Regions from separate parts of the Homo sapiens genome. Here region 2 is linked to region 1. The links come from fine-mapping of genetic effects on gene expression. A gene starts in region 1. The other region holds a variant in brackets. All regions are shown on one strand. Distances are between the middles of the regions.

Region 1 (8,323 bases):
GGTTCCCACACGAACCCCCATATCTCTACTCCCCATGGTAGTCAGAGGAGCCTTTAAAAAGGGTAAATTTGCCGGGCACGGTGGCTCACGCCTGTAATCCCAGCACCTCTGGAGGGGGAGGCAGGAGGATTGCTTGAGGCCAGTCTGGGCAACAGAGTGAGAGCCCATCTTTTAAATTAAATTTAAAAATATAAAAATAAAATGGCTGGGCGCGGTGGCTCACGCCTGTAATCCCAGCACTTTGGGAGGCTGAGGCAGGTGGACTGACTGAGGTCAGGAGTTCGAGACCAGTCTGGCCAACATGGTGAAACCCTGTCTCTACTAAAAATACAAAAAAATTAGCCGGGTGTGGTGGTGTGTGCCTGTAATCCCAGCTACTCGGGAGGCTGAGGCAGGGGAATTGCTTGAGCCAGGGAGGTGGAGGTTGCAGTGAGCCGAGATTGCGCCACTGCACTCCAGCCTGGACGACAGAGCAAGACTCCATCTCTAAATAAATAAATAAATAATTTTTATTAAAGGGTAAATCAGTCAAATTTCCAAAAGAATTTTGAGAATCCAGAGCCCATTGCTCTGATAATTAAATTCAACATCTGGACCCAGCTTGGCAAGTGCTCTGTGATCCAGCCCGTTACCTACCTCTCATCTCATCTCTCGGCCATGCTCCAAGAAGTGTCTGCTCCCCAAGTGCATAAGCTCATGCCCCCAGGCCCATGTCCTTGCCTCTCCCTCTGCCTGGGACACTCTTCCTCCAGATCTTTACACTTTTGCCTCTTTTTTCAGCCTCAGCTCAAACATCACCTCCTCCCAGAGGTCTTCCCTGACCACCCCAGGGATAGCAGCCCTCCCGCTTCCCCAGGCACTCCCACATTACCTTCTTTATCATTTTCTTCCAGAGCTCTTAGGATGATCTGAACTTCTCTCATAAACTGGCTTATTCACCTGTGAACTGCCTGCTTCCCTCGCTATAACTGAAGCACTGGAAGAGGTCCTGCACCCAGCAGGCACTCAATGAGTATCTGAGGAATGAGTGAATGAAATGCCCAGTGCACAATCAACCTCCACAAAAGCAGTTTTTCTTTTCACATATAACTCATCGCTATCACAGCCCCTCTCCTTGCTCACCCGCCTCGCTGAGGGGCTCCTGAGAACCTCCGTAGAGGTCTCCATCAGCCAAAAAGCATCTGCACCGTCAGAGAGGGCCCCTCACTGCCGCTCGCAGTGCTCCCTGCTGCCACGTGCAGCCCCTTGAGCATGAGCCTGTTGACACAGGTTGGCACACGGTGTCTGGCTTCTGTAAATGCTCTCTGCTCCCAGGTGTGCCGTGCCCCATTGAAGGACAGCACTCACACTCCTCCAGGTATTAACTGACTTTTTCCCCAGCAATGTTTGTTTTAGGGATTAAAGTTTGTGGAGGAGCCTATAATTTCCAGACTCATCTGTTCCTTTCCTGGCAGCCAGCACATTTGTCATTCTATTTTTCCCAAGTCCCTGATAATACCGTTCCAGACATGTTGATTTGATGGCATCAGTCAACGGAAAGACTCTCTGGGGCCTGCCGTAGGCCAGAGGACAGGCTCTCCGGGCCACACTCAGGGGCGACTGAGCCAACTCTTCACGCCATTCCTTTCCTTCCCTGCCTAGGACGACCTTACAGCCCATGATCGCTTTTCTTCTTCTTCTTCTGTTTGTTTTTTCTTCCTGTTTTCTTTTTAAGTACTACAGTGACCCCTTATTTATTCAGCAAAGAAATGGACTACTCCACAGTAGTGAATTTTCAAAATAATGCCCTTCAAGCACTAAAACTTTAAACAACACATCTTCAAAACAGCTTTGCTGAGGTATAACTGACACACTATAAACGGCATGGATTTAAAGTGTACAACTTGATATGTTTTGATATATGGACACACCCATGAAACCATCACCACAATCAAGATAATGAACATGTCCATCATTCCCAAAAGTTTCCTCCCGCCCCTCCCTGCCCCCTTCCCCAAGCAAGCACTGATCTGTTTTCCAAATACGTCTTTAATGCTACAAGGGCTCACACACCTCCCCACCTTAGAAAATGGAGTATGATCAACATGATTGATCCTTTCCTTGATTCAGCATTATCACCAACACGATGGAAAGTGATCTCAGATGTCATGAGGATGCATGATTGTTTGCCCTGATCACTAAACGGCCCATTGTTGTGCTGGCATACTGGGCAGTTTCAAGTTTGGGAGTTTTCTCCCTCACTGCTAGCTGTCTCAGAGCTTAGTTCCCAGCAGACAACTCTTGCTGCCTCGAACCCTGGCACACTAACCACCATCCTGTGACGTTCCCACTCCTCATTCTGCGACAGTGGTTCTTTGCTGGGAGAGATTTTTGTCTCCCAAGGGACATTTGGCAATACCTGGAGATCTTTTTGGTTGTCATCATGGGAGCGGGAATGCTACTAGCAGCTAATGTTTAGTGACTAGGGATGCGACTGAACATCCTGCAATGTAGAGTGCAGTGTCCCCTACAGAGAATTATCCGACCCAAGATGTTGATAATGCCAAGGTTGAGAAACCCTGTTCAGGATGACAAACTGATTGAAAACTCAACAAGGGGACCGGGCGTGGTGGCTCACGCCTAATAATCCCAGCACTTAGGGAGGCCGAGGTGGGTGTATCACTTAAGGTCAGGAGTGCGAGACCAGCCTGGCCAACATGGCAAAACCCCATCTCTACTAAAAATACAAAAAAAAAAAAAAAAAATACGAGTGGCGTAAGCCTGTAATCCCAGCTACTTGGGAGGCTGAAGCATGAGAATCGCCTGAACCCAGAAGGCAGAGGTTGCAGTGAGCTGTGATCAGGCCATTGCATTCCAGCCTGGGCAACAGAGCGAGACTCTTGTCTAGAAAAAAAAAAAACAAACCCATAAAACAAACAAACAAAAAAAACTATGAGGATTGAGTGATTCACATTTCTGAATCGAGAGAGAGAAGGATGGGCAGCAGGCTTGTTGAAGCTGGAAGGCCAGGGAGGTCGCAGACTGAGGAAGACCCTGGTGTGTCCCAGGTACCTCCATGCAACCCTACTAGAGAGGTGGTCTCTGGCTTCCTATGGACAAGCTCTAAGGGACCCAGCTATGGGGCACCAGAGCCCAGCGTTCAGCAGCTGCTCAATGAATGTCTGCCAGGCGAGACTGCACCCAAAGCATTTATTAGGTACATAATTGTGGCAGCACTGGCTGGCCATGGAAGGCAAGGCAGAACACAAGGAGCTGGAGCTGGCGGAAGGAAGTCATTAAGTCAGCCAGTGGCTGGGATGCAGCAAAGCCAGGCAGAAGGTAAGTGCAGACCCACCCCAATAAATGAGGAAAATGAGAAGGGCTGGCTGGCCATGTTAGGATCCAGTTCCAGTGCGACCAGATATGTCACCACCACATCACTTTTAGCTCCTCCCCCCACCCACAGACACCCTGTTTGCCTGTCATATAAAGAAGGTTTTCCCAAAGTGGTTTAGCCAGAACTGGAAGGGCCCCGCCCTGTGAAGGGATAGGAGCCTGACTGTTGCAGCTGCAGTGAGTGGCGGGGAAGCAGCAGCGGCCAGGATGAATCCCAGGTGCTCTGGAGCTGGATGGTGAAGTATGGACATGCTTTATTCGATTTTGCATTGACTTAAAGGTTTAATTATTTTAGGAGTTCTTGTAGACATTCCTGAAAAATGCAGGTAGGCAAAAAGAAGAAAACAAAGATCGCAAATGTGACCCTTTCATTCGGAGAGAACACCAATGGAATTTTGTTGTGCACCCTTCTATGCACGTCTGAATGTTGTGTAGACATTCTGCTTACAACTAGGTGTGGGTGCTGCTGCCGAAGGCTTTATTTGCTGTGCCTGAGGTGGACCAGAGATTTCAGAGAAGACTCCCAGAGCACCCCAAGGAGACAACAGGAGTGCTTGGAGTCAGGATGACTGGGTGGATTTAGGACTATGTGATTCTCAGGAGCCTCTCTGGATTAGCCCCAAATCAAGGATAAAGAGAGGCCTAGCTGGACTCTTCCTCCCAGAGCCCTGCTGGGAAAATGGAGCCCCTTTACAGCCCCCACTTACCCATCAGGCCCTGCTCCTCTCACTCATCTCCAGACTTCTGTCACATGCCCAAGTCCTGCTAACTGCTGTGTAAAACTGGTAAGGTGGGATCCAGAGGACCTTGGGCCCCTAGGGCCCCAGGTCAGGAGACCTGGGCTCCAGGGCCAGTTGAGAGTGATAAAGAGAACAATACCTGCCCACAGGACTTGTTGCAATGAGATAAAGGCAGAAGTCACCAGTTGTGGTCAAATGGGATTTTTTTCCAGAGAAGTCTCACAGAGAGTGGCTTTCAAATTCTTTTTAGCAGCAGAATTGTTGTAAAATACAATCTCATGTGAAACCCTAAAATGTGAGACACTCTGGGTGAAGCAGAGAGAGGTGCTCAACTGCCCAATCCTGTCCTCATTCCTCCCTCTCAGGGAGGCACCTCTGAGAACCCACTTTAAAGAATTTTGCCTTATGCAGATTGAAGAGGCAAGCTGGCTGGAAGAAACTGGGAAGCTCCACTTCCCACCGCCTCTGCCTGGGTGGCAGTCATCTGAGCCTAGGCTAGCCCCTCCCCCTCCAAAGACCCACTGCGGGCTCCCCTGGGGCCAGTCTCCAGGATGGGTGGGGCACCTGAAGCAGCAAGTATTGCTATTTTTCTGGGCTGACCTTTCTTCTAGGCCTGAGGACAAGTGGGTAGGTGGGGCCAGCCCTGTCCCTGTTTCCCCTCAATGGAGTTCTCTTGCTCACAGCCTAAGGAAGAAGCGTGAGTCACTTCCTGCCTCAGTCTGACTGCTGGAGTATTGTTCTCCCAACTGTGGCTGGCGCTACCCAGTGTGGCCCCTACAAGTCTTAGTTCCTTGGCGGAGGGGAAGTCCCCACTTTGGGACAAGGCCAACTGGACTTATCTTCCCGCTCAACTTTGAGGACCCAGCATTGTTCCTCCAGTTTCCAGTTCTTGCAGTGTTTGTAAAGGTGCCCGAATCGTACCTGATCCCATTCACTAAATATTATCTCCATTTTATAGAGGGGTAAATTGAGGAAGTCCCTGAGAAATTAACTTGTCTAAGGTGTCCCAGCAAAAAATAGTGCCCCAGGGATTTGAACCGGTTTGCTGATTGATTTTTCACCAGTTGCCTTAAGAATTATCATGATTTAACCTCTCTGGGCCTCAGTTTCCTCCTCTATAAAATGCAGACAGTGATACATCAAAGGTACTTAAAGGAAAATGTACTGTACCCACCTCATGGGGCATGTGGTGAGGATAAAACGGGTTGACACAGGAAAAGAGCTCTCAATGGTGCCTGGCTCATAGAAAACACTCAGTGGATTTTTTTTTTCCCATTACCCGGGAACCTGTGTTAAGGAGGCCACAGGCTGATCCTGTGCAGCCAGGTTATCTCACAGGGAGCGAGAAGAGATGGGCACAGGCTACTCTGCGACCTTGGAATAACCCAGCCTGGGAAGCTCCTGGCCACATTTTCCTTCTTTTCTTTCTCAGCTCAAGCAGCGTCGGCCTCAGCCAAGTAGCACAAACGTTTTCTAGGGCCCAGGGAGGGAGAGGCTCCGGCTGGTATATTGCAAGTAGCTTGGATTCAGGCTCTGCCAAACACCCCAGTCTCTTGCAGGATCTGAGGTCTGCTGGTTGTGGGACTTTGCGCAAATTATTTAAACGTTGTGCGCCTCAGTTTCCTTATCTGTAAAATGGGATTAATAATCTCAGCCTGAAAGGATTATGTGGATTAAATCATGTACATAAGAAGGAGATAATGTAAAGTGACTGGCCTGGTGCCTGGCAAGCGGTTGGTGTCTAAAAAGAAAAAAAAGCTAAAAATATTAAAAGGAGGTGGGCTACTTCTGCTCATATATCCACCTGTCTATACAAATGCAGACGAAGTCGTGACTCCTCTAACAGTAGGCCAAGAGGAGGCTGGTCCTGCCGCCGTGCAGTCCTCCCTCGACCTGGGAGTGGAGGACCCCAGGTCCGCCGTCCCTGGGCACTTAACCCGGTCAGGCTCAAATTCGTCGCCCAGGAGTGGGGAAGCGGGGGACGGAGAGGGCCAGTCCCCCAAGAGTCCGGCTGAGGCAGGGCTCGGAGTGCCTCCCCCAAGCCTTTCCCTTTGGTTCCGAGTTCGGGTCTCCGCGGCCGTCTTCCCGGGGAGCTCGCGGGGCGAAGAGCCGAGCCCGGGGGCGGGGGCACGGCAGCGGGGCCTGAGGGACGCGCCGGGCGGCCGCGAGGACTTTGGGATCGCCTGCCCCACTTCCTACCTGCCCCTACCAGGAGCCGGAGGCAGCGGGCGCCCCAGAAGGCCCCGCAGGGCCGCCGCGCGGGGCCGGACGCGCTGGGGCCCACGGCGCTGGGAACGCGGGCCCGCAGTCGGGCCCGGGCGGCATGGGCGGCCGAGGGGCGCCCGAGCCGCCGCGGCGGTCGCCTGGAAAAGTTTCCCCGCCAGGGCTCCCCAGGGTAAGTAGCGAGGGCGCGGGGCCCGGGGCCCGGGGAAGGCAAGCGCGTCTGGGAGCCGGGCCCGAGGGGAGCCGGCCGGGCCGGGCCGTGGAGCTCTGCCCCAGGAGCGGGCTCCGCGGCCCGGGTGCTCGGGCCGGGGAGGGTCGGGGCACTGGCGCCGGTGCAGCCCTGACCCGGGTCCCCCGGGGCCCGGCTGCCCGCCGGCTTTCCGGAACTGGCCCCGGGGCCGGCCCCGAGGGTGGAGCTGCCGGGAGCAGACAGGGCGCTCCGCAGCCCACCTGAGCGCGCCGGGCCCGTCTCGGCCCCCCGGCCGTGGCTGGTACTTTTCCGCGTGGGGCCAGGGCGAGCCCTCTGACCTCAGGAAGCGCCTGCGGGGCCCCTGCTGGGGGCGGGATGGGGAGAAAATTCCGCAGGCGCCGGGTGCTCCAGCCTCCCCGCCGCCACCGGGGCTGCCGCCGGCTCGCCCACTCCGCGGCCGAGGAGGGCCTGCGTTCCGCCCGGGGAGGGGAGGAGCGGCCGGGGGCGAGGCGGGGGCTCCTTCGCTTGGGCCTCGCCCCCGCCCGCACACCTGTGCGGCCAGGACTCGGGTGCGGGATCCGCGGGCGCCGGCGGCCGGCGCAGGTAGGTCCCTGGGCTGCCTTCTGCCGCGGCCTGGCCGAGGCCCCTGTGCCCCCGCTGTGTGGCTGGACCAAGGGGCGGCCTGCTTGCCAGACAGGTCTGACGGCAGTCACTTGTCTGGTCAGAACCCGCTTTCCCATCATCCTCTACCCCCTGGCCCCTGGGGTGCAGACCCTCATCCACCGGAGAGTGTTGGGATTCCTATTCTGACTTGGGAAGTGCGAGGAGAACCCGGGTGATATGGCCTGGTGAGGGCGGGTGCTGAGCAGGTGTGGACACAGCATAGGAGATTAGCCAAGCCTGACCTCTTCTCAAGCAGGGCAGCCCTCGTTTTACTATTTCCTATATTGGGCTTCTACGGAGCATTTGATTTTTAAAAAGGATTCTGTGGCTTTTTAAAAAGTTTGAAAGCCGCTGGTCCAGCAGTTTTTACCACCAAGGAAACTGAGGCCCAGGGAGAGGAAGTGACTTGTTAAGATCATCCAGCAAATAGTGGGCAGGGACTGGGAGCGATAAATTCACGGGAGCCTCCCAGGGCTGGTAACAGGACCCCGCGTGGTGTCTCTGCTAGAGGGAGAGACTGATTGGGTGTCCGAGTGGCCCTCCCGTGGCCTGCTCTGTGGCTGTGTCAGAGCCAGACCCCCAGTGTCTGGGAAACAGCAGTCGGTCCTGGGGTGAGGCGCAATTTGAGTGGCCCAGAGTGGCTCTCTGTGTCAGGAGGTTCTGGTGCTGGAGAAAAGGGCTTTGCCCAAGAACACAGCCAGGAAGAGCACCCACAGCTCTCTCTGGCCACAGCCTGGAACAGAGTCCCATGTGAAACAAGACCATGAGAAATACAGCAAGCCTCCAGGTTTGAGACAAACTGGGACTAGAGGGTGAGTCAGAGTCTGGGATGGGGGTGGGGAGAAACCCATTCATTCATTGTTTTCAGTTCTTACTCTTTTCGGGGATCCTCCCTTGTCCCACATGCTGTGGCAGAGCCGTCTGTGGGGGTCTCATTTTCTGGAAGCCATCCCCACCCCTCACCATGGCTGGGGTTGTTGGATAGAGGGAGGCTGGCCCTCTTTCTTTGGGGGGACTGTTCAGTTGCGCCTGACGCCTGCTTTCTTTCCGAGTGCTGCAAGGTAATTAAATAGTTGGTTAATCACTTTTAACGCCAAACAGCTGCGGCTCCATCTACAGTGTGCTGGAATCT
Region 2 (8,323 bases), 46 kb before region 1:
ACCTCAACTGTGTGGTTCCACGGCCCCACAGAGGGTTCGGTGACGCCTGGGAAGGTGCCGGGTTCCACGGCCCCACAGAGGGTTCGGTGACGCCTGGGAAGGTGCCGGGATCCACGGCCCCACAGAGGGTTCGGTGACGCCTGGGAAGGTGCCGGGTTCCACGGCCCCACAGAGGGTTCGGTGACGCCTGGGAAGGTGCCGGGATCCACGGCCCCACAGAGGGTTCGGTGACGCCTGGGAAGGTGCCAGGATGGCACTCTGATGGTCTCTAGGCTCAGATCTATTCAGGATGTGGGAGTTCACCCCAGAGAGCCTGTCTGTCCCCATGGGTCCCACACACAGGGCCTGTCACACACACAGGCCACAGGCATCTGCCTGTCCTGGCCCCATCTACTCAGTCCCTGCCAGGAGCCACAAGGCCCCATGAAGGTCAGGCCCTGGCACTATGCCTGGGCCAGGAGTGGAGCAGAGAGCTCAGGTCCCTGCTTCCTGTAGGGAAGACTTTCCTTGGTAGGATAGAACCTGGAGCAGGGACTCTTGGGGTGGGAGGTGGCAATGGTGCCCCGGGAACTGCTGATGCGGAGTAAGGGTCTGAAGAGCCACCACTACCAGATCTGAAACCCCCGCCTAGAAGGAAGGACATCAGAGACACTGAGAGACTCCTGGACTTCTGCCCAGAGCCCTGCTCGGGCTCAGAGAGGGGTGGCCCCCTGCGCTGTGGCCCCCACCACTGTGGGAGCGTTGAGACGCTGTGACAGGGAGGCAGTTAACACTGCTAACCTCAAAGATGAACTCAGCAGTCAGCACCAGGGAGATCGGAGGTCAGCCCACGCCAGCCCCACCACAGACACCCGCCTGCATGGCTGGATGTGCATATAAGGACAGAGACCCGTGCGGCCACCGTCGCCACCAGGTCCCTTGCACCCAGTGAGAGCCAGTCTGGAATGGGCGGGACCTGGCCCCTTCCTCAGCCATGGAGTGCCCTTGGCAAGTTCTGTGGCCTCTCAGAGTCCCAGTGTCTCATCTGCACCATCAACATGCCACTTGGTCCTGGCCTCCGGGGCTGCTGCAGCATCCTTTTGGTCAGATATTCCACAAACATTTCTTAACCAGAGCAGAGCTCCAGGCATGGTTCAGCCTTCAACCAGGGCACAGGCAGGGAGGGAAACGCCCCGGGGGAAGGAGAGAGCAGTGTTGGAGTAAGTGGGGTGAGGGTGAAGACCCCAGGGCACCTGGGCCAGCAGGAGTTGGGGAGGGTGCCCAGGAGGCTGAAACGGCCAAGTGACCTCCAGGCTGACCATCCCAGTGTCCAGCCACCCCCGCTGAAGCCACCCTGTGCTCTCCTTTGTGGTCCCTCCTCACCTAGGAAGAGCAGAAAGGACACAGCACCCACCCGCGGGACCCCTTTCCTGAGCAGAAAGTGCCCTGTGCCAGCCTGGCCACCGCCTCACTGTGAGGATATGCACACTCTAGGCTGGGCCACCTGGCTGTATGAGCCCCAGCCCAGCGAGCGGCACAATGGGGATGACCCCAGCACACCTGCCAGGACCCCTGCCCCACAGGGCCTGCCACTCCCTCCACAGGCCTCAGCTTAGGGTCTGTACCTTTGCCCCAGATCTGGGTTCCAGCCCCAGGGACTTGGCACACAGCCGGTGCCTAATAACAGCTTGTTGGATGGATAGATGAGCGGATGGGCGGGTGAGTGGGTGAAGGGGCGCTGCGAAGACATCTGTCTCATTGCCTTCTCATGGGAGGATAAGATAGGAGGAGGAGACGGGGCCTCAGGCTGGCAGGGCCTTAAAATCCTGCAGCCCCACGGCCAGCACCAGGCAGTGGGGACGGAGCCCCAGGTCACTGAAGGCTCCCTTGTTACTTCTGCTGGCTTCATCTGGACAAACAGAAGCCGCTTTCCAGCTGGCTTCAGCAGTTTTCACTTAGATTTTCTTCTTTTTTTTTTTTTTTTTTGAGACAGAGTCTCACTCTGTCACCCAGGCCAGAATGCAGTGGCGTGGTGGCATGATCTTGGCTCACTGCAACCTCCGCCTCCTGGGTTCAAGTGATTCTCCTGCCAGGTAGCTGGGATTACAGGCGTGCACCACCACATCTGGCTAATTTTTGTATTTTTAGTAGAGACAGGGTTTCACCATGGGGGCCAGGCTGGTCTCACACTCCCCACCTCAGGTGATCTGCCCGCCTCAGCCTCCCAAAGTGCTGGGATTACAGACGGGAGTCACCATGCCCAGCCTAGGTTTTCTTTTCCTTTCTGTTTTTTATTTTCGTTGCTGTTGTTGTTGTTTGAGATAGTCTTGCTCTGTGGCCCAAGCTGGAGTGCAATGGTGGGATTCTGGCTCACTGCAACCCCCGCCTCCTGGGTTCAAGCAATTCTCCTGCCTCAGCCTCTCGAGTAGCTGGGACTACAGGCGCGGGCCACCACACCCGGCTAATTTTTTGTATTTTTAGTAGAGATGGGTTTTCACCATGTTGGCCAGGCTGGTCTTGAACTCCTGACCTCTCAGGTGATCCACCCGCCTCGGCCTCCCCAAGTGCTGGGATTACAGGTGTGAGCCACCGTGCCTGGCCTAGGTTTTCTTTTGCTTGTGTACCAATGTTTTTGGCTGGTTGGCGTCTTGTTTGTGCTGAAATAGCAAGCCAGTTTTCCTCACTTTGGAGCTGCATTGTCTATCATGTGAAGATGTTCATAACCACCAGTGTCTGCTTCTAGCTCTTTCCTATCCTTTGTTTCTGGAGTTTACTTGTGTGTGAGGAAGGCTTTTGTGGGGACCAAGGTACATGGAGCAGTTGGGAGGTGAAAGTTTGTCACTGGGTCCTACCTGTGCAGAACGTCAGTCCCAGCCGAGAAAGCAAGGGCCAGGGCAGTAGTTCTCAAACTTGTGTTAGCCTCAGTCACCTGGAGAGCTGGTTGTGCCATGGCTTCCGATGCAGCAAGTCTGGAGTGCGCCCCAGAGGTGTGCATTTCCACCGGGTCTCCTGGTGGTCCCGATGCTGCCAGCCCCAGGTGAATACAAACCACAGCTGCCGAGAATTTTAGCACTGAGGTCTTGGGCAAGGCATTCTCCTCTCCTTCATCCTTGGTTTCCCATCTGCAAAAGTGAGGGAGTAGGGTGCAGTGGCTCACACCTGTAATCTCAGCACTTTGGGAGGCCAAGGTGGGAGGATCACCTGAGCCTAGGAGTCTGACACCAGCCTGGGCAACATAGCAAGACCCCGGTCTCTACAAAAAAATTTAAAAATTAGCCCAGCTGGTAATGTGCTTCTATAGTCCCAGCTACTCAGGAGGCTGAGGCAGGAGGATCTCTTGAGCCTGGGGAAGTTGAGGCTGCTGTGAGCCGTAAGCCATGACCATACCACTGCACGCCAGCTTGGGCAACAGAGTGAGACCCTGTCTCAAAAAAAAAAAGTGAGGGCATTAGACTCCGTGATGGCTGTCACCTCCATCCTCAAGTTGGACAAGACTGTCGGGGTGGGCTGGGGATCTGTGGGAGGGAGGGTGTTTGAGAATGTGGAAGTGGAACAGCCTTGCACGGGAGCTGTTTTCAGGAAAGGGACTCATGACAAAGCCAGGGTTCTAAGCCCCTTCCAACACCAAAGGGCCTCTTAGAGAGAGACTCAGAACTTAAAGGGAGACTCGGCAACCAGGAAGCAAGTAGCAAAGCATCACTCCAAGCAGGCATTTTGCAGTGTATGAGAGGCAAAGGAAACCTCCTTTAAAACTCTGGAAACAAGCATAAACTGATATTTCCCAGGCCCTGCCAGCCTGGGAGTCAAATGAGGTCATGTTACCACCCAAATCTGCCTGAGAACAGAGTCCTGTCTCCCTGCCGGGCCAGGCAAATGCCACTTCAAGATACAGTCCGTTGAGAACCCCTAGACTGGGACCTTAAGCTGCAACGTGTGATGAAGGCTTTCTAGAAAAATGCAATTGCAGGGTTGGTCTAGAGCCCGCTTTTCTTGCCTGGGCCCCAGCAGGATCCAGTGGCCTGAGCGGGGAACAGATTCAAGTCCCAGAACAGGATGGGGGACAGCCTCACCTACCAATTTCCTTTC[C/T]ATTCTTTTTTTTTTTTTTTTTTTTTGGAGACAGGCTTTCGCTCTGTCACCCAGGCTGGAGTGCAATGGCGCGACCTTGGCTCACTGCAACCCCTGCCTCCTGGGTTCAAGCGATTCATGTACCTCAGCCTTCCAAGTAGCTGGGACTACAGGTGCCAGCCACCACGCCCAGCTAATTTTTGTATTTTTAGTAGCGACAGAGTTTCACCATGTTGGCCAGGCTGGTCTTGAACTCCTCACCTCAGGTGATCTGCCCGCCTCAGCATCCCAAAGTGCTGGGATTACAAGCATGAGCCACCATGCCAGGCCTGCAATTTCTTAGACTATTGAATGGCCCTGGAGTCAGATTGCTTGGGGTCAAAGGCCACTTTTACCACCTGCTGTGTGACCTTCAGCCCTTGAGCAAGTTATTTAACTTCTCTGTGCCTCAGGGAGCTCATAACAGCACTATACTGTGGGGTGGTGCCAGATCTGTCTCATAGACCCTGGCCAACGGATGAAATGAGTTCTCAGACACAGGCATACAGCATAAGAGCAGCTGGGTGACTGCCTGGCTCAAGTGGCCAGAGAGCAGCCCCAAGAAGCTGGAGCTGCTTGCTTTTATTCAGTGCAGGCACAATGTGGAAAACCTGGAGCCGACACGACCTGCAGGTAACTGACAATTACTGTGGCCAGGCACGGTGGCTCACGCCTCTAATCCCAGCACTTTGGAAGGTCAAGGCAGGTGGATCATGAGGTCAGGAGTTCAAGACCAGCCTGGCCAAGATGGTGAAACCCCGTCTCTACCAAAAATACAAAAATTAGCTGGGAGTGGTGGCACGCACCTGTAATCCCAGCTACTCGGGAGGCTGAGGCAGGAGAATTGCTTGAATCCTGCCGGGGTAGAGGTTGCAGTGAGCAGAGACAGTGATACTGCACTTAAGCCTGGGTGACAGAGTGAGACTCTATCTCAAAAAAAAAAAAAAGGTATTGTTCCCCTTTCAGGGAACCTCACACCCGCATGATCAAAGGTCAGTTCCTGGACAACATAAACAAACAAGCCTTTTAAGATAAATTCCCCCACACTCCCTTGTACCTACTCCTTGCCCTCTGCCTCAGGGTTATAGAACAGCTGCCTTCAGTTATTCTCCCCCAGGGCTCTGCAAAACCTTCTGACCTTTCGGAAGGTTTGCATCCTTTCCCTATAGTTTTTCCCACCACTCTGACAGATCCCCCACAGGGTCGACTGGGGGATTATGAAGACTAATAGGATAATGCCTGCTCAGCCCATAACGGAGTGTCTGGATCTCAGTGAAGGTTATTGTACTGTAATACGTAGACACTATATGTACTCATTGTTTGCCGCATATATTTGTGCAGAAGTTGATTGGTGAATAAACAGGACATCGTTTTCACTCAGTGGGTCTCAGCCATTCTCAAACTAATCCTTTTATGGAATCAGTCTCAAAAAAAGAAGCCTTCTTCAGGCATGGCTACACCCAGCTATCCAATCATAATGTAAGCATCCAGGTTTTGGAGCTCTAGAAATTGGCAGAACAGGTAGACAACACCCCATAATATAGGTCTCAATCCAGGCTCTAGGAACCCCTGGAAAATCCTGAAATAGATGTCAGAGGGTATCTAAACCCCTCAAGTGCATGTATTATTCTTGTGTGTCTCTGCAGATTTCTGGGAAAGGGACCACCATCTTTCTCAGGTTGTCAAAGGAGCCAGCAACCCCCGAAAGTTGTAAGATTCTGCCTCAGGGAAGATGATGCAGGCCTCAGCAGGTGCCCTCAACAGCACAGACACTCCCAGGGACACCCCGGGCACCCCAGGCACCAAAGCACTGGGGCAAAGATGAGAGTGGCTCACTCCACATCTCCTTTGCTGAGAGCCAAGCCCTCTCCAAAGCCAAGAGAAAACAACAAAATCGGACGGCAGTGCACACTCAGAAGCATGAAACCCTGGCGAGGAAGCATCATTACAATTAGCCGTGACGACAGGCTGCCTATGATCTTAGGACGCACAGTGGTTCTGCGTCATCACAGACAGCAAGGGGTTCAGGAGGCGGCCGGTCGGCAGCGGACAGGACATGGTGAGAGGTGACAGCGTGCTGGCAGCCCTTGCAGCCCTCGCTCGCTCTCGGTGCCTCCTCGGCCTTGGCGCCCACTCTGGCCGTGCTTGAGGAGCCCTTCAGCCCACCGCTGCACTGTGGGAGCCCCTTTCTGGGCTGGCCAAGGCCGGAGCCGGCTCCCTCAGCTTGCTGGGAGGTGTGGAGGGAGAGGTGCGGGCTGCGCGCGGCGCTTGCGGGCCAACGCAAGTTCCTGGTGGGCGTGGACTCGGCTGGCCCAGCACTCGGAGAGGCCGGCCGGCCAGCCCGCAAGCCCGGGGCAGTGAGGGGCTTAGCACCTGGGCCAGCATTTGCTGTGCTCGATTTCTCGCCAGGCCTTAGCTGCTTCCCCGCAGGGCAGGGCTTGGGACCTGCAGCCCGCCATGCCTGAGCCTCCTCCCCCTCCCCACCGTGGGCTCCTGCGAGGCCCGAGCCTCCCAGACGAGCGCTGCTCCCTGCTCCATGGCGCCCAGTCCCATTGACCGCCCAAGGGCTGAGGAGTGTGGGCGTACAGCGCGGGACTGGCAAGCAGCTCCACCTGAGGCCCCGTGGGGGATCCACTGGGTGAAGCCAGCTGGGCTCCTGAGTCTGGTGGGGACTTGGAGAATCTTTATGTCTAGCTAAGGGGTTGTAAATGCACCAATCAGCACTCTGTATCTAGCTGAAGGTTTGTAAACACACCAATCGGCACCCTCTGCCTAGCTCAGGGTTTGTGAATGCACCAGTCGGCACTCTGTATCTAGTTAATCTGGTGGGGACTTGGAGAATCTTTATGTCTAGCTAAGGGATTGTGAATGCACCAATTGGCACTCTGTATCTAGCTCAAGGTTTGTAAATGCACCAATCAGCACTCTATATCTAGCTCAGGGTTTGTAAATACACCAATGGACACTCTGTATCTAGCTAATCTAGTGGGGACGTGGAGAACTTTTGTGTCTAGCTCAGGGATTGTAAACGCACCAATCAGCACCCTGTCAAAACGGACCAATCAGCTCTCTGTAAAATGGACCAATCAGCAGGATGCGGGTGGGGCCAGATAAAAGAATAAAAGCGGGCTGCCGAAGCCAGCCGTGGTTGCCTTACACACTATGCAAGCTTTGCTGTTTGCAGTAAAACTGGCTGCTGCTTGCTCTTTGGGTCCACACTGACTTTATGAGCTGTAGCACTCACCATGAAGGTTTGTAGCTTTACTCTTGAAGCCAGTGAGATTAAAAACCCACCGGGAGGAACAAACAACTCCAGTACGCGCCGCCTTAGGAGCTGTAACACTCACGGCGAAGGTCTGCAGCTTCACTCCTGAGCCAGCCGCACCACGAACCTATCAGAAGGAAGAAACTCCGAACACATCCGAACGTCAGGAACAAACTCCGGCCACGCCGCCTTTAAGAACTGTAGAACTCGCTACAGCACTCACCGTGAAGGTCTGCGATTTCATTCTTGAAGTCAGTGAGACCAAGAACCCACCAAGTCCGGACACAATGGGACCTGTATGCAGTCTATGGGGCAGTTCAGACCAAAGGGCTGGGCGTGGCACCACAGCTGCCCCGAGCCCTTGGCCTCTCTGAGCTTTTCTCTCTCACCTGAGAAATGGGATTTCAAGGAAAATGAGTAGCGGTAACTTACCCACCTTACTCCACGGTTACTGTGAAGCGCCCAGAAGAGAAGCCATGGATGTGGGCGACGCATTCGAGGTTAGCTTCAGAAGCAGCGGGCGCTGGGTAGCCACATTGACACCCGGTACTAGCGCTTCCTCCTGGGGGTTCCTGGGTCCAAGGGGGTTGTGGCAGTCCTTGCCACAGAGATGCAGAGTCTGCAATGTCCAAATGTGCTTCGTGTGCAGTGGGAGCCTGGCAAGCTGTAACCCTTGTCGTGATTCACGCGTCCCAGGGACACTTGGGGGCCGCTGTGGGCAACCCCCCACACCCCGCTTTTGGTCAGGGCTGTGCCAGCAGAAGGCTGGGGCTGGACAATAGAGGGGATGTTGGGGCCGGGTGGGAGGCGGGAAAGGAGAAGGAGGGAAGTTTAGCAAGGAAAGAGCAGAAACGTCCCAGAGAAATTAAATTTCAGTTTTGTGGTGAACAGCTGGATCCTTTTTCCCATATCCTCACCAAAAAATTCCAATACTATCTTTGTCACCTTGTGTCATGGATCTATTTTGAGCTCTCT

What was found. PIP is the estimated chance that this variant, and not a neighbour inherited with it, causes the effect. A credible set is the group of variants that fine-mapping cannot tell apart.
Region 2: its variant is the best candidate, but not a certain one, in a credible set for the expression of FURIN in whole blood (INTERVAL, PIP 0.58).

Annotation. Positions count from the first base shown.
Region 1 is chr15:90,865,096-90,873,418 of GRCh38, forward strand. FURIN (furin, paired basic amino acid cleaving enzyme) reads left to right here and starts at 3,493. Exons shown (of 16, transcript NM_002569.4): 1 at 3,493-3,616. RefSeq lists enhancers at 4,025-5,224, 4,467-4,516, 4,584-4,878, 4,617-4,726, 4,664-4,958 and 2 more and silencers at 6,235-6,444, 6,485-7,124.
Region 2 is chr15:90,819,196-90,827,518 of GRCh38, forward strand. No RefSeq gene overlaps it. Among named protein-coding and RNA genes, the nearest start is that of FURIN, 45 kb to the right of the region's middle. RefSeq lists an enhancer at 6,390-6,989. The variant C/T (reference allele first, on the strand shown) is at 4,066.